Regions from separate parts of the Homo sapiens genome. Here all the other regions are linked to region 1. Evidence: fine-mapped expression QTL. A gene starts in region 1. Each other region holds a variant in brackets. All regions are shown on one strand. Distances are between the middles of the regions.

The links. PIP is the estimated chance that this variant, and not a neighbour inherited with it, causes the effect. A credible set is the group of variants that fine-mapping cannot tell apart.
Region 2: its variant is the best candidate, but not a certain one, in a credible set for the expression of PLCG1 in whole blood (INTERVAL, PIP 0.61).
Region 3: its variant is the best candidate, but not a certain one, in a credible set for the expression of PLCG1 in whole blood (TOPMed, PIP 0.90).
Region 4: its variant is the best candidate, but not a certain one, in a credible set for the expression of PLCG1 in whole blood (INTERVAL, PIP 0.88).
Region 5: its variant is the best candidate, but not a certain one, in a credible set for the expression of PLCG1 in whole blood (TOPMed, PIP 0.66).

The regions. Positions count from the first base shown.
Region 1 is chr20:41,134,585-41,139,686 of GRCh38, forward strand. PLCG1 (phospholipase C gamma 1) reads left to right here and starts at 2,959. Exons shown (of 32, transcript NM_002660.3): 1 at 2,959-3,274. The coding sequence starts at 3,058. It overlaps LOC124904903 (translation initiation factor IF-2-like), which reads right to left and starts at 2,929. Exons shown (of 2, transcript XM_047440629.1): 1 at 1,118-2,929; 2 at 1-708. The coding sequence starts at 2,755. The coding sequence ends at 2,174. PLCG1-AS1 (PLCG1 antisense RNA 1) reads right to left here and starts at 3,416. Exons shown (of 7, transcript NR_109889.1): 1 at 3,130-3,416; 2 at 1,118-1,227; 3 at 555-708. RefSeq lists enhancers at 1,474-2,258, 3,043-3,827, 3,749-3,848, 3,997-4,076 and silencers at 2,229-3,218, 3,339-3,598.
Region 2 is chr20:41,266,907-41,272,008 of GRCh38, forward strand. ZHX3 (zinc fingers and homeoboxes 3) reads right to left here. Exons shown (of 4, transcript NM_001384317.1): 2 at 2,084-2,177. Among named protein-coding and RNA genes, the nearest start is that of ZHX3, 48 kb to the right of the region's middle. The variant G/A (reference allele first, on the strand shown) is at 2,681.
Region 3 is chr20:41,165,434-41,170,535 of GRCh38, forward strand. PLCG1 (phospholipase C gamma 1) reads left to right here. Exons shown (of 32, transcript NM_002660.3): 15 at 17-118; 16 at 206-393; 17 at 761-961; 18 at 1,043-1,162; 19 at 1,246-1,426; 20 at 2,419-2,496; 21 at 3,334-3,437; 22 at 3,646-3,742; 23 at 4,024-4,093; 24 at 4,679-4,836. It overlaps MIR6871 (microRNA 6871), which reads left to right and starts at 3,590; the gene lies at 3,590-3,645. The variant T/C (reference allele first, on the strand shown) is at 2,640.
Region 4 is chr20:41,180,699-41,185,800 of GRCh38, forward strand. ZHX3 (zinc fingers and homeoboxes 3) reads right to left here. Exons shown (of 4, transcript NM_001384317.1): 4 at 1-4,503. The coding sequence ends at 4,493. Among named protein-coding and RNA genes, the nearest start is that of MIR6871, 14 kb to the left of the region's middle. The variant G/GTA (reference allele first, on the strand shown) is at 2,485.
Region 5 is chr20:41,103,017-41,108,118 of GRCh38, forward strand. The region is part of intron 13 of TOP1 (DNA topoisomerase I); the gene reads left to right. The region is part of intron 4 of PLCG1-AS1 (PLCG1 antisense RNA 1); the gene reads right to left. Among named protein-coding and RNA genes, the nearest start is that of PLCG1, 32 kb to the right of the region's middle. The variant C/T (reference allele first, on the strand shown) is at 1,991.

The sequences.
Region 1 (5,102 bases):
GACAGCCAGAGAGGGGCCCCATTCAGCCCCCGTCTGCCTTCCTGGTCTCATCACTCCCTGTCCCCTCCTCAGTCAGGAAACTCTAGCTTTGTAACCCTAAATTCAACAACCTCTTCCTGGCCTCAGGGCCTTTGTACATGCTGTTACCTCTACTTGGAATGTACTTTTCTCCAACCCACCTTTAATAATTCACCTCGCCATCGACTCACTTCCTTTAGACCTCTGCTGAGGTCTGAAGAGATCTCGACCCAATGTTTTTCCTTCTAGCCCTCATCATAATTGTCTTTATGTAACAGAGTGTTTATTTAATGTCTGAACTCCCAGAGAGCTGGCGCTGTGTCTCTCTTGTGCTCCTCATGTTGTCAATGCCCAACACAGAGAAGAGCAGGGTCCACAGAACTTCAAGCCTAAGCCAGTTCAAGCCACACTCTGTGAGCACTCACGTTCTGCTGGATTCCCTGTGCCCAAGGCCAGCGGTGAGCATGCCTCCCCTCACCCATGCTGATTAACCAGATAGCCTCCATGCCCACTGACTACTGACCACCAGGACTTACCTAAGCCAGTGGATCTCCTGTGAGGCAGAAAACTCATGGAGTCAGGCCGACTTGGGTTCTAGTTCCCACCTAGTCATGTTATGTGGCTTTGGGGCAAATTGTAGAACTTCTCTGAATCTCTGTTTCCTCATCAGTAAATTGTGGACCATCATTCCTGATTAGAAGATAATTATGAGGATCAGGTGTGACCACAGGTGCACACCTTCAGCACAGGGTCTACGCTAGCTCCGTCCCGCCCACGTAAAGACCTGCCACTAGGTGGCAGTCCATCTCAGCTACCCCACCGCTCCTTACTCCACAGAGGCTGGCTAGGACAAAGGGTCTCAATGTCATGCTGAATTCTGAGCTTCTTAGGGGACGCACTTGAGGAAATCAACGTTAACACACAAGTTTCCACTACAGCAAGACAAAGTCAGAAGCAGCAGCCCCAGGTCACTATCCAGCTGAGTGGGTTGCCTGAGCACACGCTCTTACAAACTCTAGTCTAGTCCTACTATCTCACAATTCCCAGGAAGCCTGGCTCTTTCTCTGGCATCAGCTGGAAGCTCTGTTGGGCTTCTCACCTCTGAAATGCAGTAAGTTGTCCTGCTGTGCCTGGCAGCCGACCCACTGCCTGGCTCAACATGTCAGACAGGCTCCACCGCGACCGTGGGTGTCCTCAATTTTGGCGGTGCTGACAAGGGTAGATAGATTGCAGGGGTGAGTTTCAAGAATGGCTTCAGAAAGACAAAGAGTATGAATTATATTCCATAACCAGAAAAAGGCCTTGTGGCTGGAGAATGGAGAGTGAAGGATCACTTGTGAGAGATGAAACTGGTGAGATGGGCAGGTCATATAGAACCTGCTAGGCCAAGCAGGGAGTGTGGATTTTAGGTGCAATGGGAATTCACGGAGGGTTTTAGCCTGGATGTAGGGGATCATGATTTAATTTCATTTTAAAGATTTAAAGCATGATAAATCCAGGCAAAACCAAACTGATAGATCCAGGCAAAACCAAACAAGGTGAGTAGTCTGGGTGACAGGAGATGGGGCCTTCAGCTTGTGGGCTGAGTGACAAGGTCTTGATGGATTGGAGGTGAGGCAAAGGGAGGAATCAAAGTTAGCTGCAAGGTTTTTGACCTTCCAACTTAGAGAAGTTTAGCGCCGCGTTCTGAGAAAGTGAAGACTGTGGAAGGAATCGTTTGGGGAGGGAAGGCGAGCTGTCTAAGGGGGGGGGATGTGGAACATGCAGTGGGATGCTGGGGCCTGGAACGTAGGGGAGATGCAGGTTTGGAGTCACCGGTGCCTGTGTTGTTGGGCAAAGCCAGGGGAAAGGTCAGGTCGCCTTGGGATCTGGCCTAGCACTGAGTGCAGAGGAAGAGAAGCTTCTGAGATCGAGAGGCAGCGGCTACAGGAGGAGGAAGAAAGCAAGGCGGGGAAAACCAAAGTTCAGGAGAGCATTTGCAGGAGGGCGCTGCGGGGTAGGGTCTGAGTCGGAGCCCCGAATCGGACTCGAGTCCTGTCGCGTGGGGACGGAGCGTGCAGAGGCCCATGCGAGGGACAGACACAAAGGCCCTGGGAGCTGCAGGTCAGACCACTGGACAGCGCGGCCGCGGACCTAACGCCCCTGTAAGGGGTGCTCACGCTTGGGGGGAACTCTCCGAAAGAGAGGACCACTGAAAGCCACCCTGGCAGCAGGGGCGGAACAGACAGACGTGGGTCTGGCCGTCGCCAGAACTGCCTGCGGACCAGCCCCGCGCTGCCGGGGGGGCGGGACATGTCGGCTGTCCATCAGTGCCCGCGACCAATCCGCAGGCAGCCCCGCCCCCGCCCCTCCCGGGAGAGGGCGCGCGGAGGACCCGCCGCCGCCGGTGTGAGGCGGCCCGTCCTGGCTCCCTTGTCCGGGAAGCCCGCCCAGGTAACTGAGTTTGGCCGGGCATTCCCGGAGGACGCGCCATCCCCTCACGTCCCGTCCCGGTCGCTGCATGGGCGGTGTTCGGGACGCGGGGGCTGCGTCTGTGCGGGACCGCGGGGTAGCGGCCGCCCGTGCGAGTACGCCTGACTGACGCGCCGGCCGCCGGGCCTGCGGCCTGTGGGCGGGGCTGCCGTGCGTGACAGGGCCGCTCGTGGCCGCCGGGCTGTGTCCGGGGCCGCGTGAGAAAGCTCTGCGGGACTGAGGGCTGGGTGGGTCGACCGGGAACGGCGCGCGCTCCCGCCGCCATCGCGCCTCCGTCCCCGCCTGCGGCCTGTCTGGGGGTCGCGGGGCGCAGGCGCGGCGGGCCGACGGGCGGGGGTCCTCCCCACGGGTGCGCGGGCGCCTTTGTTCCCGGCGCCGAAGCGGGGTGGGGCCTCAGGGCAGCCCCGCCCCGCCGCGCTGAGGCCCCGCCCCGTGTCCGCCTGCAGGAGCCGCCGCCGGGTCCCGCTCGTCTGCCGCCTCAGCCTCAGCCCCAACCTCAGCCGCCGCCGTTGCGCTTGCTCCCGGGCGGTCCTGGCCTGTGCCGCCGCCGCCCCCAGCGTCGGAGCCATGGCGGGCGCCGCGTCCCCTTGCGCCAACGGCTGCGGGCCCGGCGCGCCCTCGGACGCCGAGGTGCTGCACCTCTGCCGCAGCCTCGAGGTGGGCACCGTCATGACTTTGTTCTACTCCAAGAAGTCGCAGCGACCCGAGCGGAAGACCTTCCAGGTCAAGCTGGAGACGCGCCAGATCACGTGGAGCCGGGGCGCCGACAAGATCGAGGGGGCCAGTAAGTGCGCCCACTTCCTGCCTGGGCCCGCCCCGCGCGGGGGTCGTGGGAGCCCGGCCCGACTGCTTGCACCCCGGCCGGCCGCCCCAGCGACTTGGGCAAACTTTCGGGCCCTCCCAGACTCCCTCCGGGCCCCGCCCCCGCTTCGTCTCGGGTGGTCACTGGGGGCGGGGGGCATCCGGGTCCTCGGTCACCTGACAGGACACCCCCCCTCCCCCAGCTGGGGGGAGTGTTCCAGGCGCTTTGCCCTGAGGCCTAAAAATCCTCGCGGGCTGGAGACCTGCGGTGCAGGCATCGGGCCCCCCAGACCCTGGGAGTGGTGGCGGCGTCGGCGAGGGGAGCTAAGGCAGTGGCCCCCACCCTGCACGGGAACCTGGGGCCTGACCAGACGGTCCCCGCCCACTCTTTATCCAGAAAGAGCAGTCTGTGAAACTCTCCGGGCCCCCAGGCTGGGCTCTTATTTGCAAAGGAATCTTTGGGTTCCCTAAGTAGAACTTAGGCAGATGTTGGGTAGGGCTGGTCTTGGAGCAGAGCTGGGCCTACTCATCTCCCTCTGGGGGAGAGGGAGGAAGGTGGTCTTGTTTGGTTTGGAGAAGCCTGAGAGAAGCCAGTGGCTGGAATTTTTTTTTTTTTTTTTCTGCTACTTTTGTCCCAAAGCTGGGTTTTGGAGGCCTATGTGGGTGGGCAGACACTCAATGCCAGGGCAGGGACTCCCCTTGCCCTGGGAAGCACGTTCCCAGGAGATGGGCCCCATAAAGGCCTGCCCCAGCGCCTTGGAGTCAGGTATTCTTCTCAGGAGTGCAGCTAGTTTGTGAGTCTAGCCCTTTGTCCTCTGTCCGGTGGCTTCAGGGAGCGGGAGCGGCTTCTCTTAGTTTCCTGCCTTTTCGCCTTCCCAGGCCTGAGCTTGGCTGCTTTTGCGCTGGTCTCTAGTGGGAGGAGGGAGTTGGGGGATTTTGAAAAACCCCAGATCTTTGAGAGTTGTTCCACTTAGCGCGTGCCTGTGCTGTGGTCGGATGGGCACTCTGCTCTGCCCTCCATTCCCCCGCCTCTCAGTGTGAAGAGATGGTGTGTCTGCAACTCTAGACTGGGTTGCTTCTTGCAGGGACCCCCGGAGACTAGGGTTAGAGAGACCCAGGCTCAGAACCAGGTCTGTGTGAAGGAGGGAGATCAGGAAGTGACACCCCAAGGGGGGGTCCCACAAACCTTCTTGGGTATGGTGTGCATGTGTGTAGATAGTTGAGGAGATTGGGAGGAAGGAAGGTCTTGTGGTGAGGCAGCCAACCATCCTCAGCTACAAACTCCAGATCTGACACAGATCTAATGCAGCTGCTCAACTTAGAAATGGCAGCCCCCTTCCTCAGTGCCCCCACTGACCCTGTCAGCCATTGGGAGAACATTTTAGTGACTTGAGAGCCTGTGGATTCCAAAGTAAAGGAAGAATCGACACTGCAAAGAGCTGAGATAACCCTGGGAACATCACTCAGGCATCAGGCTCCAGGCATGGTCCCCTTCCTTACTCCCTATGCTGTGTTGAGTTGGTGGCACTGGCTGGAAGTTCTCAGAGATCTCCTGGGTAACAGACTGCATTTTAAACCACGCATATTAGCAGGCAATAAATGTAGCACAGTGGTTGATGGCAAGTCTGGATTTGAAGCCCATATATTCATTGTGTGTTTCCCGGCCAGTTACTTACCTTCTCTGAGCCTTGATTTCCTCATGTGTAAAATGGGGGTAATAATATATCCAGTATATATGGTTGCTCCAGGATCAAATGAGACAATTCATATAAAACATCTAGCATTGTCTGACACATAAATGTTTAATAAAT
Region 2 (5,102 bases), 130 kb after region 1:
CCGTCTCGGCTCACTGCAACCTCCGCCTCCCGGGTTCAAGTAATTCTCGCACCTCAGCCTCCCAAGTAGCTGGGATTACAGGCGCCTGCCACCATGCCTGATAATTTTTTTTGGATTTTTAGTACAGATGGGGTTTCACCATATTGGCCAGGCTGGTCTTGAACTCCTGACCTCAAGAGATCCACCTGCCTTGGCCTCCCAGAGTGCTGGGATTACAGGCGTGAGCCACCGGCACCTGGCCTAACCCTCCCAATTTATTACCATCCAAAGCTTTCCTAGACATTAGTTTAATATTTTATGTCTTTTTTTTAGTGTAAATATCTAATCTGCCATTTATATTCCTAAAGTGGCTATAAATTACCTTCTAGATCAAAGAGCTATGTTTGACAATGATTTTTAAGCCCCGCTGTTTAGCAGGCTTTTAACATACAGTTTAAGATACTTCCTCCACAACATTTTCCCTGTTAATCATTTTCAATCCAATCACATGATCTCCAAATCTACTTAATCCTCCTAACGTAAGCATTCTTCATTCATTCACCCAACAAATACTTACTGAGCATCTATTGTCCAGCACTGGTTTAGATCCTGGGGATAAAGTTCTTGCCCTCAATGAGGATTTCAGGCAGGGAAGGTACTGGGTGTGAAGGGAAGGCAGGGAGACAGCCAATCAAATTTATCTACAGTGGCTGGATGGTGATAAATGCTATAGAAAAAATAGAGAAGGATAGAGTGATTCCAGGGTATGGTAAGGTATCATTTTCAATTGAGGGTACCATACAAGGCATCTTTGAAAGTTTAACTTTGGAGCAGAAACCTGAAGAAGGAGGGCAGTAGCCATTTGGCTATCTGGGAGAAGATGATTCCAGGCAGAGGGAACAAGAACAATGGCTCCAAAGCAGGAATATTTCTGGGCAGACTGAAGCATGGCCAGCAGACCAGTGTGATGAAGCAGTCAGTATGAGAGTGAGCACTAGGAGATGTGTACGTAAGAAACTTGTCTTATGACATTTTTGGTTTAGAGGATTGATATATAAAGCCACTAAACAGTTTTACTCAATTTTAAGACTCAAAGTTAAATAATGATCAAGGTAGACTACCCAAGATTACGCCTGCAGCAATCCATTACTGAAGCATAGGGAAGGTGCCCACCACAAGACAGAAAGTTCCAGAAGTTACATTTGTGGGAAAATTCCCACGGGCTGGTGGTCCCCAGGCTTGTGAAGGAGGAGAGAGAGATGTTGCCATGGAGTTGCCTAAAGAAGTTGTACAGAACTTCCAGCATCACACATCATCAATGACTCTGCCTCCATTTCTTTCTCTCCTTCTAAAAATTTCTATTCAGCTTACTGGACAAAGTTTCTTAATAATGGAAAATAATGTAAAAGACATGCTTTATTTAAACAGCTTACTAAGGCATATCTATTTCATCAAATGAAGGCTCTATTTACAATGATTGTTTGCTAGTGTGCTTTGCTTTCCGTATTAAGTTTAGCATTAAAAAAAGTTTTCCCAATTTAAATTTTAATATGTTTTGTAACTGCTTTTTAATAGTCTACTGTGAATATATGTCCATCATTAAATACACTAGATCATTTTTTAAAAGGTTTCCTATTCCACAGATCCCAGAGATAAGTGTAGTGTCACATATATTGTAACCTGAGAATATGGCTTGAATAATTGGTATTCAAATTAGTTTTCTAGTTTTTCAAGTCAATCAAGTGTATGTTCTGCACTCAAACTAAAAGCTGACACTTTGACTCACCCTGCACATCATAGAGAGACACAACACAGGATACTCTTATGATCTCAATGGTCAACCTATAACAGATTCCTATCAGATGATCAAAGAAATCATCGAAGTTGTAGATTCAATGCAGATTTTTAGATTAATCCAAAAAAGAATCATTTGATCAAAGACTTCAGCAATAAAAAACAAGGGAGGAGAAAATAATGTTTAATAGCAATGCGAAGACTAAATATAAAGACTTCTGCATTACAAAGTTGTGGTAATTAATGTAGCAAGAAACTTGTGAAAACTCAGAAGCATGCTATTTACCCAAGAAACATACTTTTTCCTTACTTCATTGTTTTTTTCCAGTTTCCCTCTTCACTTTATGCAGTCCCACAAGCATCTCTAAAAGGTCACATGTTGCTTCTGCAGTTGCATTTCAGTCCTATAAAAGAAGCAGCACATCATCACTTTATGAGAAAACATTTTAGGAGGCTGAGTTATCCAATCTCATCAGTCTCCCTTCCTAATTCATTCGCACTAGAACTATACATAAACAGAAAAACCAGTGAGACAAAGGTGAAAAAGAGGTTATCAAAATACAAACTAGCAATTTGAAACTATTAAAATTCCTAGTAGAAATAAAGCAAACTCAATGGTCTCTGATAACAGATCAGAACAAAATCTGTAATTTTAACGCTCTTTCCACCAATGAGTTTCCATGTCTCTCTCCCAGCTAAGTTTGAGACAGCTTGGCAGAAATAATACTAACAGATGTGTTGCTTTGTAACTTCAAGGATGTGCTATTTTCTGATGTTCTTCCATTCGGGTTTTCCTGGTGTGGATTCTAGAGGCACAAAAATGGCTCAGACTGTGAGTTCCAGGCCAAGGAACTGTTTTCATCTCTGTCTCTGACCATTATTACCCCTATTTCATCATGGCACTTTC[G/A]GTAAATGAATGAGACAGTAACTATGTTTTCAACAGACAACCAGAGATGCTTCATGGGATCTTAAAATTACTTGGGAAACAGCTGTAAAACCACTACTTTTGAGTTCTTATTTCTTTCTTGAAGAATTATCTTTGATTGAGATGCCCATTAGCAGTAAAATGGTCCCAAAGCGAGTATACCAGAAGGTCTCAGAACTTCCAACAGACGTGTAGGCATTGTACACTAGACTCTAGTGTATCATGACTAGAGCATCATGACTACGAGCATCCATGAATGTACACATTTTTTTTGCCCCTCAAAAAAAAAAAAATCCCTCACCCAAGTGGCTTAACTTCTTAACACCAGCATCTTATGTCTTTAACATACACATATCTAGCTTTACACTGCATCAGGGATTGTTCTAAGATCTTTAAATACATTAATCCAATCCTTACAATGATGCTATGAGGTTGATTCTATATTCTAATCACCCAGATAAGGAAACTTGTTAGGTAAATTACCTAAAGAAAAGCATTATGTTAAGGCCGGGTACGGTGGCTCACGCCTGTAATCCCAGCACTTTGGGAGGCCGAGACGGGCGGATCACGAAGTCAAGAGTTTGATACAGCCTGACCAACATGGTGAAACCCCGTCTCTACTAAAAATGGCCGGGCATGGTGGTGTGCGCCTGTAATCCCAGCTACTCAGGGGGCTGAGGCAGAAGACTTGAACCCAGGAAGCAGCAGTTGCAGTGAGCCGAGATCGCACCACTGCACTCCAGCCTGGGCAACAGAGCGAAACTCCGTCCAAAAAAAAAAAAAAAAAAAGGCCGGGCACGGTGGCTCACACCTGTAATCCCAGCACTTTGGGAGGCCGAGGTGGGCAAATCACGAGGTCAGGAGAGCGAGACCATCCTGGCTAACACGGTGAAACCCTGTCTCTACTAAAAATACAAAAAAATTAGCTGTGTGTGGTGGCAGGCACCTGTAGTCCCAGCTACTCGGGAGGCTGAGGCAGGAGAATAGCGTGAACCCGGGAGGTGGAGCTTACAGTGAGCCAAGATCACACCACTGTACTCCAGCCTGGTTGACAGAGTGAGACTCCGTCTCAGAAAAAAAAAAAAAAAGTATTATGCACTATGCTGCTGTTCATAGTCAGGGGTACCTGGGCAAATATAACTGTGCAGTAAGCTACAGTCTCATCCATCTATTTCACTTTTTCTGCTTCTGTCCTGGTATGCCTAAAGTAGCTCAATGTCTACTGAATTAGCTCTTGAAAATTTCTCCTTATTAATAATTTACTGAGAAACAACTTCTAATTCTCCCTACCTTAAACCTCATCTTTGCTTATTTTTTGAAAATTATCCTTTGGGAGGCTGAGAAAAAGGATTGCTTGAGGCCAGGAGTTCAAGACCAACCTGGGCACCAGGGTGAGACCACAGTCTCTACAAAAGTATTTTTGTTTTTTGTTTTTGAGAGAGAGTCTCACTCTGTCCCCAGGCTGGAGTGCAGCGGCACTATCTCGGCTCACTGCAACCTCCGCCTCCCAAGTCCAAGCATTTCTCCTGCCTCAGCCTCCTGAGTAGCTGGGACTACAGGCACGCGCCACCACACCCAGCTAATTTTTGTATTTTTAGTAGAGACGGGGTTTCACCATGTTGGCCAGATGGTCTCGATCTCTTGACCTCGTGATCCACCCACCTCAGCCTCCCAAAGTGCTGGGATTACAGGCGTGAGCCACCATGCCCAGCCTACAAAAGTTTTTTTTAGAAAAATAGCCAGCATGATAGATATTTTCCTATGCTTGCCAGATCCCTTCTAACTTTAAAATTGCAACACCCTTACTCAACCAAGGCATTAGAGTTCAGTTGATTGGTTGATTCAGATGATGCCAAAAGCTATGGGTTCAATCCACTATAAACCAGTTAGCTTTGTTTGCTTCACATCTACAGATTTTTAGTCTGGATGGCATATTTTGGATCATAAGAGGAAGCAGGTAGGAGTGTGGAAGACAACATTTGCTGGAGAAAAAAGTCTCCAAAAACAGCACTGACTGTGGGCCAGAAGCAACAGCCTCATTCATAAAAAAAAAGCTTCATAATAATTGGCAAAACACTTCTAGCTTTCTGAGTAAGACGCTCTTCTCAGATCATTTGCCAGAATATAGCCTCAAGCTCCTCCTTCGAAAAACAAAACAGATGAGATACAAATAAAAAATTAATGTTTTTCGTTTTTGCACAGGCTCTGCTTGACTGATCTGAATACAATTTTCTTATTCCTGACACCAAGGTCACTGACAATAAAAAAAAAATTGAAATGATTTTAGAAAGTATTACAAAAATCTCTAGGAGTGTAGCTTACAAAATCACCAGAAAAACTTGACTGCAATTCCATAAGTATGTCTTAGATTCTTTTACAATTCCTTTAAATTTTCATAAAACCA
Region 3 (5,102 bases), 31 kb after region 1:
CTTTGGTCTGTTCCAGGAATGGTATCCCCACTACTTTGTTCTGACCAGCAGCAAGATCTACTACTCTGAGGAGACCAGCAGTGACCAGGGCAACGAGGATGAGGAGGAGCCCAAGGAGGTGAGGAACCAGCTCAGGTCTGGGGGCTGGGCCAGGTCAGGCCTGGGCCAGGGTCACAGTATCTTTGCTGTTGCCTTCCCCTGACAGGTCAGCAGCAGCACAGAGCTGCACTCCAATGAGAAGTGGTTCCATGGGAAGCTAGGGGCAGGGCGTGACGGGCGTCACATCGCTGAGCGCCTGCTTACTGAGTACTGCATCGAGACCGGAGCCCCTGACGGCTCCTTCCTCGTGCGAGAGAGTGAGACCTTCGTGGGCGACTACACGCTCTCTTTCTGGTAACACTTCCCATGCAGATGCGTATGTTCAGTCAGCGTGTGTACACAGACATCACATCACCCAGAGATAATCAGTTAACATTTGAGCCTTTGATCCAGGACAATAATTAGGCTTTACATGGAACATAATTTCACCTACATACACACACACACTCTCTGTCTCACCCCCCCCCCATACCCCTCCCTTTTCGGTTCATTTGAAGCCCACACCTTTGGTTCATGTGACTGCCCACACCTGAGCTCCTCAGGAGATTGGCCTCCCTCCTTGAGGCTCCCTCCTTGAGTTCCACCCTCATTTGGGGTGGAACTTGGTCTTTGGGGCCCTGGCCTGTTTTCCCCAGCCTCCCTCACTCTGTGTCTTCCACAGGCGGAACGGGAAAGTCCAGCACTGCCGTATCCACTCCCGGCAAGATGCTGGGACCCCCAAGTTCTTCTTGACAGACAACCTCGTCTTTGACTCCCTCTATGACCTCATCACGCACTACCAGCAGGTGCCCCTGCGCTGTAATGAGTTTGAGATGCGACTTTCAGAGCCTGTCCCACAGACCAACGCCCACGAGAGCAAAGAGTGAGGGAAGGGCCTGGGGGCGGACAAGGCAGGGCAGGGCCATGGGTGGTGCTGGCCGGGCCTGACTCTGCCTGTTCTCAGGTGGTACCACGCGAGCCTGACCAGAGCACAGGCTGAGCACATGCTAATGCGCGTCCCTCGTGATGGGGCCTTCCTGGTGCGGAAGCGGAATGAACCCAACTCATATGCCATCTCTTTCCGGTGAGGGGTGTGGCACTGGGTTGTGGGGCCTTGCTTGGGTCTGAGCTGCCCTGACCCTGTGTGACTGTTTTGTCCTTGTGAAGGGCTGAGGGCAAGATCAAGCATTGCCGTGTCCAGCAAGAGGGCCAGACAGTGATGCTAGGGAACTCGGAGTTCGACAGCCTTGTTGACCTCATCAGCTACTATGAGAAACACCCGCTATACCGCAAGATGAAGCTGCGCTATCCCATCAACGAGGAGGCACTGGAGAAGATTGGCACAGCTGTGAGGGGGCTGTGGTAGACGGGGCATGGCAGGGGAGGCAGGAGAGACCCAGAATCTTACCAGTCTCTGGATGTGTGTAACAGCAAGACCTGGTGTGTTGTAGAAGTTCGTGGGAGGGCCCCTGACTCCAGCTGGGAGCCACAGTGTGGGTACCAGGAGGGTGTCTGCAGGAGGGGACATCTGAGCAGCATCTTTAAGGATGGGGACAGGCACATAAGCAGAGGGTTCCTCATGAGTCAAGATGTGGAGTGAGGAGGTTCTGGGGCTCACACTGGGAGAGGTGCACACAGTGGAAACTCATCCACCTGGGCTTGGCCTGGACTCTGTCCTAGGGCAGATGAGATGAGGCTACCCAAGAGTGGTTGTGGAGCCTCCGCCTGGTGGATGGTATGGAGGGCAGAGCCACAGGAGGTGAGACCAGTGAGGGAAAAAGTCAGGACCCATGGCAGCACAGCTGGTGATAAGGGCCCTGGACAGAAGGAAGGGGTCTAGGACCAGAAGATCAGTTGAGAGACTGCTGTCGTCAGTAGACAGGGCTGGCTGGGGAGAGAGAGGCCTGTTGTCCACTGGCACCTGGGACTCAAGTGATGGAGAGGAGCGGCAGGAGGAATGTGGGGAGTGGGAAGGCTTTTCCTGACTTTGGGCTCAGCAGTGAACCAACAAGCCACTGAACTAAAGCACTGAATATGGGTAGTCTGTGAAGGGCCCACCTGCACATAGCTCAGAAATACTTGGGAGTTTGGGCATTTAGGACCTGAGAGATTTTAGAATCCTGGGCTGGGCCTTACATGTAAGAATGTGAAGAAAGGAAAGGGAACAGTGAGGCCGGGCCTGAGGCCTCTGAAGCCGTCTCTACTGAGGTCGAAGGATCCCTGTGGATCAGGTGCAAGTTTGCTGCACTGGGGGAAAGGGAAGCTGCTCCAGAAACCAGTAGCTGCTTTCTACCTCTGGGCTCTGGGGCATTAACATATCCCATTGTGTCCTGTTTCCAGGAGCCTGACTACGGGGCCCTGTATGAGGGACGCAACCCTGGCTTCTATGTAGAGGCAAACCCTATGCCAACTTTCAAGGTACAGCTCAGGCCTCTGGGCATAGGAAGCTGGGGAGGGTCCCCAGCTGCTTGGGGCTTCATTTCTGTGTTCTGGGCCATCTGTGGTCTTTGTGGAGAAGTGGTGGTTGTGGTTTTCCGAGGCCCAAGAGGTTGTGAGAGATG[T/C]GTGGTTGGTGAGCGACCGCAGGTCTCCCAGGGCCGACCCACTCCCTAGCCCCTACCCCTTAAGTCAGCAGTGACCCTTTAAACTGCTCCTGTGGGTGACCCCTGTTTCCTTCCTGGGCAGCAGCGGGGTAGGAGCTGGGAGGCACACTGGCCACTCATTCCCCGGCCTCATGGAGCCCTGTTACACAGGTTCTTTTTTGTTTTGCCTTTTTCTCTAAAAAGGCCTGGGCCCTATTTCTCACCCCCTCCCCTCCACAGCCAGGGGACCTGGAAGGAAGTTTTTCTTTCCACTTCACAGATGAGTGGTAGGGTCCCATCCAGGCCCCATATGCTTCCAGGTCCCGGGGAGGCACTCAGGGCCACTGCAGACCCTGCCTTCTTGGCCTGCCAGCCCTGACTCCTGGGAGCGGATTCAAGGTTCTCCCTGTGGCCCAGGGTGGGGCTTAAGGTTCCACCTGGGTCCCGAGGTATTTCACTGGCAGAGGCCCTGCCTCTCTGATCATATCTGTCCTGGAGCTTCCCTGCAGGGCAGTAACAAGAACTATAACTAGGGCCTGTTGATGGCAGTGTCATCTCCCACTGGCCTGACCCCAGGCAGGGAAGCCCAAGCACATGTGTGTGTGCACATGAAGCCCCAGGTTGGCAGTGGCAGGGAGAGCCTTTCTGCTCTGACTGGTGCTTCTCACCTCTGCAGTGTGCAGTCAAAGCCCTCTTTGACTACAAGGCCCAGAGGGAGGACGAGCTGACCTTCATCAAGAGCGCCATCATCCAGAATGTGGAGAAGCAAGAGGGAGGCTGGTAAGCCAGTGGTGTGGTAGGCCCAGAGTCCAAGGGCCCCAGTGGAGCTGGGGCCCCAAAGACATGCATTTGTGATGTGCTTGTCTCCTGTGTGCACCAGCAGTGCCTGCCTCACCCTGGCTTAGGCATGGGAACCCCTACCAAAGGATACCCTCCTCATGGGAGTTCGGGGTGGTTGCTGGAGGTCAGCACCCTGTGGCTCCCACAGGTGGCGAGGGGACTACGGAGGGAAGAAGCAGCTGTGGTTCCCATCAAACTACGTGGAAGAGATGGTCAACCCCGTGGCCCTGGAGCCGGAGAGGGAGGTAAGACCAGAACCACCTGAGTAACAGCATTCCCTATTCCCAGATTCTCCTTGGCATGCCCCCATCACACAGTCCCAAGCACGCACGTGCATGCACAGACACCTGTCACATGGGCTGGTCGCACAGCCCATGTGGCCATGCACGTAGTCTCCCATATACCTGTGCTACATTTGGCAGTCACAGGTACACCCACAAGATGTATTTGTCCCATGCACACGGATATCCCCTCACACACATATGCAGTAGCCATGCTGACCATTGGTGGGCTTTGCTTCCCACAGCACTTGGACGAGAACAGCCCCCTAGGGGACTTGCTGCGGGGGGTCTTGGATGTGCCGGCTTGTCAGATTGGTGAGCTCCCATCTGTTTCTCTTGCCCACTGTTCCCTAGGGTGAGATTCTTCTTTGTATCTCTTTCCTGCTCCTAGGGAGGAAGCTGATGGCTGAACCCCAAAGTCTGCCCTCACTCCAAGCTCTCCCCATGCTCTGGACATCCCCTTGACACCCTGGGCTCCCTTTGTCACTGTCAGCTTTGACCCCTGCATGTTTACCTATGCCAGGCACTGGGGAACCCGTCAGAATCAGCAGAACAAAGTTGATGCTGCTGGTTGGCTGACATCCCCAGGCCTAATGGGTTGTACCACAGGGATGTGACAGAGGCTTGGAGATGGGGTGGAGAGGGAGACACGGCCTGAGGAAGAAGCATGAGTCAGAGCTGAGTTGGAACACTGGCTCCACCACAACCAGCAGTGACTTGTTTGAGTTGTAGCGTCGTCATCTGTCAAATGGGCCAGCAGAGTAGTCCTTCCCCTCATGGGGTGTGGGAAGGAGGAAATGGGATGAGATAGAACTCATTTGAGCCAGTGCCTGCGGTGTGGAGTGGGGTGGAGGGGGTGAGATGTCTATTCCCAGCTGTTATCTGCTCTCGCCCTCCCAGCCATCCGTCCTGAGGGCAAGAACAACCGGCTCTTCGTCTTCTCCATCAGCATGGCGTCGGTGGCCCACTGGTCCCTGGATGTTGCTGCCGACTCACAGGAGGAGCTGCAGGACTGGGTGAAAAAGATCCGTGAAGTGGCCCAGACAGCAGACGCCAGGGTGAGATTCTGCTGGAACCTTCTGGGGGGCAGTGTGTGGGCCCGTCAGGCAGCTGAGGCCTCCAGCTCCCAGCACAGGCCCCCTCAGAGCAGTGGGGCAGCCGATGGCCTATGCTAGATAGGCCACAGCCCCTGCCTTAGCTAGGGATTGAGAAGAAACAGACACATAAGATGCAATGTGGTGTGTTTAGGTTGTGTTGAGTTTGAGATACTGATGGGTCGTTGAAGTGGGTCTGCTTAGTGGGCAATTGGATACACAAGACCAGA
Region 4 (5,102 bases), 46 kb after region 1:
ACCCCTCCTGGTGTGACCTGGCACTGGGAACACACAGATTGCAGCAGAAACCTGTTGGTTCCATTTGCACTCAGAGCAAACCAAGCAGCACCTTGATTGCCACTTTTCCTCCAGCCACTCTGTCAAAATCAAAACTGGTTGCCTCACCAGCCCTGGTGTGGCATGGCCCAACCATGTCCCTGCCGCCCCACTTAAATGGCCAGAGAAAACTACATGGTGGGTAGATGAGGTTGAAGCCTTGCTTGGGGAAGGGACTTGAGCACAGGAGAAAGGCTTGAGCTCCACAACTGCCCATTTGCTCAGACAATGGAGCTTTTCTGAGATCAAGTGCTCCCCAAACTACATGGGAGTAGCCCCCCGTGGTCTGGGCAGGCTGGCTGAGAGAGGTCTGTGCTCTCAGGTAAAAGGAGAGAAGGAAGCTGGGTCAAGAGACCCTGAAGAGGAGGGTCCGTGTCTGGAGTGAGGGGAACTGAGCCCTGCTGGCTACCTGACCTGGGTGGGCTGCTGGCTTTGCCCTGGAAGACTTGACTATGTGGGCCTTCATGTGTCTAGAGGATTTTTCTTCTCCAGCATATAACTACCTTGAGAATGGATGTGATATGTGAAAATTTAAATTTAATACAAAAGCACATCTGCAAATGGTGAGTCAAACTGGTGAAATCTCCCAGGTAAACTCTGAGCAAGAAAAAAGAGAAGATGACTTTAGGAAAATCCTAAACGAGGTTTGGTTTTAAAATTTTCTTCTTGGCTGGCTCTCCTCTCCTGCAAGTTGCCTTTATCCACTTGGGGTGTGATATCTGAACTGAAAAAGCTGCACCAATCTGAGGATATTGGTCCAAAAAGAGACAAGAGACCACGAGGCTCAAGCAGAGAGCATCCACACAGCATCCAACCAGAAAGGCCAGTGTCCTTCCTCCATGAAAGGCAGCCAGGGACAGATGTCCCAGAGCCAGGAGAGAGAGGGAGAGAACACAGGACCTGCCCCTAGGCCACTGACTGAGCAGGATAAAACCCACAAGGGCACATCTCAGGCTACGGAATAGAGAGATTTCCTGGTGGGACGGCCTCCCAAGGCTAGCTGGAGATGAGACCACTAGTACATGTGTGAGCCCGCAAGGCACTACCCAATGTTCTGTCCAACTTCCTCCTTGTGCTACTAGAGAGCACAGTGTGGAGTCCTTGTGTCAAGGTGCTTTGGTCCACCTGAACAGCCACCTGTCACTCAGCCAAGAGAAAGGAGCTTTAAGTTGTACAATCACTACCAAACCCCAAGGCCCTGGCAAGCCATCCAACTAGGGCGTTCTTTTTCAGGAACCCAAGATTCTCAAAAATGACACTCCTCCCCTCCCAAAATAAAAAAGCTCCTTTATAGTCAAAAACGAAAACAAGTAATCAAAATATACAAAGCATATGTATCAAATTTAAATTTCCTTTATCAGAATGATCATCTGGTTTCACCTTTGAGAACTCGATCTACAACCCCATGTAAAAAACAAATGGGTACAAGACATCAGCAACAAAAAAACACTAAAAGATGATTTTACTATCTCTGACGAGTCCAACTGCATACAGAGAAAAGGGATAAGATTAGCCACTTTTTATAGGCTTTTTCTTCAGGAGAGACTAACCTCACCCAACTCTCAACTCTGCAGCCCACAAATGCCTTCTACTGAAGGCAACAACACAATTTAACCCTTAGGCAGTGTGCAAAACCACAGTGAGCTGTCCTGTGACAGGGCTACATACCTGGCTGCTGCCATCCCACATCCCCCACTGCCACTGGGCTAGTGTGGGTGTGTCTCTGTGCACGACTGGCTGGATTCAGGGTTTTGCCCCCAAACCCTTGAGTACCTCCTACAATGTCCCTTTAAGCACCTGCGTGATGACTGCCTCCCTCATCATCGCTTTTGATCATCTTTCAAGGATAAGGTCCAGAGCATACTCACTCACTCTCATCCAACAGCAGAGGAAGAAGGATCTGTCCAGACTGCTGGGCTCCTTACATGGGCATTCTTGCCTTTTGTAGTGTAGCCCTGGCTGTTGGGCAGGGCTAACATCTATAAGAAAAACATACCAGGGCAGGCAGCACTGTACTTTTCCACCTGAAAGATGAGCTAGTGCCCATGGCTGGGTCACTGTAGGTCCTGCATGAACTTGTCCACCAACTGTGTTTTGCTGTTTGGGTTGTAAATTAACCGTGAATACAAGTAACCAAGAAAATCCTCTCCACAGACCAACTCTTCAGCCAGTGCATGCAGGGCTCTGGAGGTGATGCCAGCAGGATCTGGAGGTGAGGCACTGGGTGGTTTCTCAGACACCCGGAGATGGCTTCAGCCTGGGCCGCCCCAGCTGCCTAGTGCACTGGTGTCCCTCCAACACAGGCTACTCCCCCAACACCCATGTGCCACCAAGTTTCTCAACTGCACACGCCAGATGCGCGTTTTACGAGAATCAAATGAGTATTTATACTGTATATGTGTGTGT[G/GTA]TATATATATATATATAAATTAATCTGCACGTATATAAACACTAAAAGGAGAAATTCCAAGTGTCTGTTCTCTGAAGGAAAGCAATCACTCGCCATTCTTGGCAATTCCTCAAAGGTTTTTGAGACCAAACATCTTTACTCCCCAAATTAAGAATACAAAAATAGGCTGCAAAACTTGCCAAGTACTCACAAGTCCCTGTTTGAGACAAATAAGATGTGGTCCCTATTGGGACAGGGAGGGCAGAAGATGACACTTTAGAAGAACATGATTTTGGTTTCAAAAGCAAGACCTCTCCTGGAAGGCAGAAGGGGCCACCGCCATGCTTGTCCTTGGAGCCACATGAGCACGGTGCCCTGCCAGGTCCAGTTCCCTGGGTAGGGGAGAAGGACGGTCCCTAAAACACCACCAGTGCTTCTTGCCCAAAGCCCTTGCCCTCTCTCTGGGGTCTTCTAGCACTGTCACTCTGCCCAGCCCAGGAGGTGTCTGTGCCCACGAAGCCTGGTACTTGTGGCTTGGCACTCTGGGAAGCAGGTGGTTTCTAAGAAATGAGCGGAGCTACAGGTGGACAGGTCTTTAGTTCGCCCCTCTTTACCAGCTACTCTCAGAGCAACCGGTCTTGGGGAAATTGAGGATTTACCATTTAGAACAGCTCTGTAAGCAAGTTTTCTAATTTTCAAAGGCACCATTTCCTGTAATTTTCTCAATTCAAAAAAGGACATGAGGGTTAGGCTAAAGTAGAGTTCTTGTTTCCAAGTTTGGGGACATAAATATAAAACTTTAAAAGCATCCTCACAAGGACCAGTGATGCCCAGCACCCTTGGGCATGCATCCAGCACACCGGCCAGACCCTGGGGTGGGAGCCACGGGCACTCTGGGTGTTCTGCCAGGGATCTCTGCATGCAAGTCTTTGTGCTAAAGACCACCCTACCTCTGATAATTCCAAGAAGTCAACAAATCCCTCCAGCCTTCACCCTTACTAATGGGCCAGTGTGTTATTCCTTCCCAAACCATAGGAGGCTCTGAAATGAGTGTGGAGAAAGGGCTCTGAAAACCGCAGTGGTCAAAGCTTCAGGCTGTGGCTATAGATTTCCACTTACGTCCCTACCCCATGTCTTTTTTCCATCTTTCTCTCACTCCAAACATGTCTAGATTAAAAAAAAAATGCAGGCACATAGGTCAGCACATTAGGCTTAACAACAAATGTTTCTTTAGTTGATCTGATAACTGAAAAGTTATGGTCCATGATTCAAACTCCCATGAAAAAGCAGAATTACGGTAACAACTAAAGAGAATGGTAAAGCATCCAACGCTAATCACATTGCCAGTCCATTTTTTGAACTGAGGGTTACAGCAGGTTCTGCACTGAGTAGCCCACAAGGCAAAGCAAGCCTGACATGAAACGTAGCCGGTCATCACTTAATGCAGCAGAGATCTCTTCAAAGGTACTGCTTCCTTGAGGAACACAAAGGGGGCACAAAGGGGTTCCAGACGTAGCTTTGTGCCTATAACTTCCCTGCCTGACTGTGGAAGGTGAGGGGCACCTGTGACCCAGCAATCCCCAGAGAACAGACACAGGTCATTTTTAGAGATGACGTAACTGACAATGCACTGCTTGGCTAACCAAAGTTTCTACGTAATGACAGTGTTGATAATCTGATGTTTTATTTAACATATAGAGGTGGATGTATATGTTAAAAGCTTGATTCTGTGTCTATGAATATGACTATGAACTCTGAACTATTTTATCCATTGGAAGGTAAAGGAAAGGTCCTACATTGTGGGAGGAAGAACTGATGAGAACCCCATCTTGCTTGCTGCTTGCTTGGTGGTGGGCAGGCCGAGGGTAGCGGCAGGCTCTGGGCTGTCTGCGAGGATTCTGGAAGCTCTCCCAGGTGCCCAGCAGCCGGGCATGGGAACGGCATGTGGCAGCAGAGAGTCGGGTTTGGCTCTTCCACGTGGCAGGCGGTTTCCCAGACTGGCCAGTCCTTCACATTAATCAGATCAAATTCAGTCTGTTTCTGAGAAGAAAACACATGCCTGTCACTCTACGGCAGCTGCCACCACCTGCCCCCCAGGCAGCCTGGTCCTTGCTATACCAGGGTGGCATCACTGGCTTTGAGGACCTCTTAATTCCATGAGCAATGAATGGCCTTCTGCCACCCACTCCCCCACCCTCCAGCCTGAGGGAATGTGGGTTAAGGACAGGATGCTGGCTCAACCTTGTAAGGCCATCAGACTCTCTGAGAGACCCTGCTAAACCCTAGGCCTAGCAGCAGGAGCAGTGGTTTGGCCTCTCCAGGCCCACTAAATCCCCCTAGCTCCCCAGGCTTCCGCCACCACCGTCTCTGGAGTCCTGTCCTAAAATGCTTCATCCTGCCCTCTCCTTCCAGGCTCTCCAGAACATACTGTTCCAATATAATAGCAGCTGGGTCTAGTTCTGATATGTATTCTACTGATGTCTTCACTTCATTTGTAACTTGCAACCCTAACATCAAAGTCAAAGTAAGGCTGATATCAGAGAGGTTCATCATCTGTGATTCATAAAGAAATGGTCCTTAATTGCAGCTGGCTGAGAAAGCCATGAGAAACCAGGTACAGATAAACAGATTGGCCCTTC
Region 5 (5,102 bases), 32 kb before region 1:
ATGTTGAGGATAGGGGTTGAGAAAAGGTGTGATAAAAAGAATTATCAAGTGGTGACAGTTGCACAACATTGTGGATATACTACTAAATGTCACTAGTGGTAAATGGTATCAATGCATATTTTACCACAACTTAAAAATGATCAAAATAACAGAGTTACTATTAAAAACATTTGCACATAAGTTAACATTTGGATCTTCTAAGCATACCGCACATACATATACTAATGCCACCATTTATAGATGAGTAAATTTAGTCTCTGGGAGGCCCAAAAATTTGCCCAAGATTCAGTGGCTAGTAACTCTAACTTAGATCTTCTTAGAATGTAACTTAGATCTTCAGTCTCTGCATGCTTTCCTGTGACATCCACTGCTAAATGTGGCCAGCTTTAAATGCCATGTTAAAGAGACTGAGCCCTTAAAGGACTTTGAACAGTGGAGTGTCTTGAACACAGCTTCACTTCAGCAAGATTTACAGGCATTATATGTAAATCACATCAGTAAATATGAACTGTTATAAATGCTGCAAAGGAAAAAGTACAGGGTGCCATCTGAGAGTATACCAGGGTACCTGATCCAGCCTCTGGGGTTCAGGGATGGCCTTTCTGAAGAGGTAACATTTAAAGGATAATGTAAAGAAAAAATTTTTTTAAATTAGTACCTGAAGATCTGGCTGGCCTCACTATATAGCTTCCTCTCCTGCCTCTTTCTTCCCTCAGAACGACCAAGCTCTTGCTCACCTCTGGGATTTCAAAAGGCTACTTTATTTTCTCTATTAGAAACACCCATTCTCCTATTCTTTCCAGGGATACAATCCTATTCATCCTGTAAATCTCATCTTAAATGTTAACTCTTCAGAAAGGCCATCCCTGAATCCTAGAGGCTGGATCAGGTACCCCGGTATACTCTCAGATGGCACCCTGTACTTTTCCTTTGCAGCATTTACAGCAGTGTAAATCTACTGGTGTGATTTACATATAATGCCTGTAAATCTTGCTGAAATGAAGCTATGTTCAAGACAACTCCACTGTTCAAAGTCCTTTAAGGGCTCAGTCTCTTTAACATGGCATTTAAAGCTGGCCACATTTAGCAGTGGATGTCACAGGAGAGCATGAGGAGCATACGCTCTAAGAAGATTGAAGAGTTACTAGCTGTTGGATCTTGGGCAAGTTTTAGGGCCTTTAAGTTTAAAAGGAAGCCACCAACCTGGGATTTAAAGAGGGAAATGACACCAGATTTGTATTTTGGAAACTCGTTACATAATTGATCATTCTGACTGCTGCTCTGCGGAGACTGGATTGGACACAAACAAGAAGTAGAGAGATCAATGGGAAGCTGTTGCATACTCCAGGCAAGAAACAGCGATGACTTAAGACAAATGATGGCAATGGGGATGGAGAGAGGTGACAGATACATAATGTATGCTGAGTACTTGTACAGGTAAGGATTAGAGTTAATTAATTGTTGGAGCCTCTCTGAGGGCTGAGATCCTTGTTAGATAGACCAGGTGAAATGCCTCAAGAGCAGAGAGCCAGTCAATTTTATTCCAGACAATATCCAGCTAACTGCTATACACAATAGACATTTGTGCAAGTTTCTGGATGATGATCATGGTAGTGAACCTAAAAGTCACCCAGAGTTAGACTCTGAACCTTATGCTCAGGAGAAAGTGCCTGACTTGAACTGCAATGGGATCCCAATAGGAGTCATTAAAGGCCTGGAAAAGTGGTGCCATTAGGAGAAAAAGAAATGATTTCTTGAGCTTGCTCTCAGTTCTCTTTTAGGCTGTCTTGTACTCAGCAGAATAGTGAGATCTTCAAAGGTTGGGGTTTGATAGTGCCTTGAATAATTTTTAACTTTATATTGCCAGCGGAAGAAGCATTCTCTTTTTAGATTTAAAAAATGTAGATACAAATATTAGGGGTTTTATTTTTAGTGAAACATTTCAAACATACAGGAATAGATAATTATGTAATGAACACTCGTATGTCCA[C/T]CATCTGGCTTTGTAAAATCTTAAAATTATGTCTTATGTGCTCAATTGTTTTATTTCATAAAAGATACTGATAAACATAGCTGAAGTCACTTGTATACCATTCACCTTCTTCCCTGTAGATTACTATGAACTCGGTCTTTTTATTCTCATACATATTTTTTGTATTTTTGCAGTATATTTATGTGTTCATAAACAATATGTAATTTTACAATATGTAACACACTAGTAACATACTAATTTAAAACTTGTTTTTAGTTTACAATATGTTGTAAACTATTGTAAGCTAAAGACATATTGTACAACCTATTGTAAAATAAAAACAGGTTTTAGTTTTAAATTAGGTATGTTACTGGGATCATTCTGCAACTTGTTTATTCCTCTCCAGCTTTGATTTTGTGGTTTTATTATCTTAACCTACACTTTTAATTAATCCATTTTATTTGTTACATGGTATTCTATTATATCATAAAAACTTATCTATTCTGTTGGTTTTTGTTGTTGGTCATTTGAGACCATGTCTTCGCTCTGTCACCCAGGCTGGAGTACAGTGGCGTGATCTTGGCTCACTGTGACCTCTGCCTCCCGGATTCAAGTGGTTTTGGTGCCTCAGCCTCCTGAGTAGCTGGGATTATAGGCGTGTGCCACCATGCCCAGCTAATTTTTGTATTTTTAATAGAGACGGGATTTCACCATGTTGGCCAGGCTGGTCTTGAACTGACCTCAAGTGATCTGCTCACCTCAGCTGCACAAAGTGCTGGGATTACAGGTGTTAGCCACCATACCCTGCCTCTATTCTCTTGTTAAGAGGCATTTAGCATGGTTATACAGTCTCTTGCCCTCATAAACAGTGCTGGAAGAAACACATGTTTCTTGTGTATATGAATGAAAATTTGTTTTATACATTAGATATTTCCAAATTGTTCTCTTAAGTACTTCAGTTTACATCATTACTCTCCTCCTCCCTCCCCTCCCACCCCCACCCACAACAGTATTCCTCTTTTTCCATATCCTTGCTAATGTTTCTAAAGTTTTGCTTTTTACATTTGGGTCTTAGATCCACTAGAATGTATTTTTGCATTGGGATGAAGTTGAAACCTAATATATTTTCCAAATGAGTAAACTGTTGTCACAGAACTATTTAGTTGTATTACCTCCTCTCTTGTATATCAGATATATCTACATATATGTCAGACTGTTTCTGGGCTGTCTGTCCTCTTTAATTAGTTCGTGTATCTGTTTCTGCATCAGTAGCATACTGTCTTAACTACTGTAGCTTTATAAAGTCTATTGAGTAGGACAAGTTTGTTTCATTCTTCAAAATTGCTTTGGCTATTCTTGGCCCTCTGCTGTTTCATATTAACTTTCAGATAAACTTGTCAAATTCTAATGAAAACTGTTGATAAACTTGTTGATTAACAAATTCTAATAAAAACTGTTGAGATTTTTATTGGAATTGCAATACATTTATAGATTAACGGAGAAAGATATTGACAATACAATTGAGTTTCCAATTCACGAACATGTTATACCTCTCCATTAATTCATGTCTTTTGAATGTATCCACCAATATGGTTTTGTAATTTTCTTCATAAAGGTTTTACATTTAAAAAATTCTTATTTTTAAGTGATCTTATAGTTTTTATTGCTAATGTGAATGAGATTTTTTTCCATTATGTTTCTGTTGGTTATTCCTGAAGTGGTAATGCTTATAATTTTGGGGTGTTGGTCTTGTATCTGGCAGCAGATACAAGAGGTGCTCAGAGTTGTTCAGGGTTGCTGAACTCTTAGTTCTAAAAGTGTCTGTCATTTGGGGTTTCTATGTAGATAATTTAATTATCTATAAAAACAGTTCTTCATTTTCAGTTCATATATTTCATATTTCTTTAAGTTTTAATTTTTATTTTTAAACACAATTATCCATAAAACCCTAACCCTTTCCCTAGTCAACAGCAGTCACAGCCAAATGTTTTATTAATTGCTATACTCAGTGTTTCTTGTATCTCATACCTTCTGGGGTTTCTTGTCTTGTTGAAATACACCCTTTAATGTTTCTTTAGTGAAGACCCAACAGTGGCACTCACTCACCTTTGTTTACCTGAAAATTTCTTTATTTTCATCTTAATTCATAGTCTGTCTTTTCTCCAGTCAAGGAAGTGTCTTATAGGGAAGATTCTGGTTTCACTATGCTGTATCCAGGGATATATATGTATTTATAGATAGACTTTTAATCTGAGGACTAATGTATTTTATCCTACAGTATTACCAATCATTATTTCTTCCATAACTTCTAGACCATTCCTTTTGTACTTCTTTTTTAGAGTCCTATTAGATGAGTGTTGACACTTTTCAATCTAGACATCTTTTTTAAACTATATTTTCATACTCTTTGTCTCTTTAGGTCTGATTTTTTAAGTTCAGGGGAATATTTCATTTTGGGTGAGTTGTAGCACTCACTTCCAATTCACTAATTCTAATTATATTTAATCTACAAGTTATTCCATCTATAATTTATTTCAATTACCACTTTTTGTTTTCAAAATTTCTAATTTTATATCTGATTTTGTTTCATTTTTGTTTTATAATTTCATGTTCTTTCTAGATTTTACATCTTTTTATGCATACTAAACATACTCACTTGAAAGTCTTTGTAAGATTGTTCTATAAAATGTTACCTGAAGTGAATTCATGTGCTAATTACTGTTGGCAGTTTTTCTGAGCCATTTTCCTTGTGTCTTTTGAAATTTCTGTTTGTAAGCCCTTTTAACTGGGAGGTGTTTTTTGCTTATGTACTGTTCTCTTTTCTTTCCCTTCTTCTCCTTCTCTGTTCATTACTTTTTGTCTTGGAGGGAGTCTCTTAGCCCAGCTCAGCCCAAGCTAATAAGGCCCCTGACTTCAAGTCCCCCCTTCTTGCATGGAGCAAGAAGTGATCCTCCTGTCTCAGCCTCCCAAAGTGCTGGGTAGGCGTGAGCCACCACATCCAGCCTAGAGCACTTACATTGCTACATATTTGGAGCAAACATAATTAAAGTATGACTTACTGTGACCCAGCAGTCAATAACAGATATGTTTTTGTAATAGAATGTTGAAGGGTGGTAACTGGTGGTTTTACTTC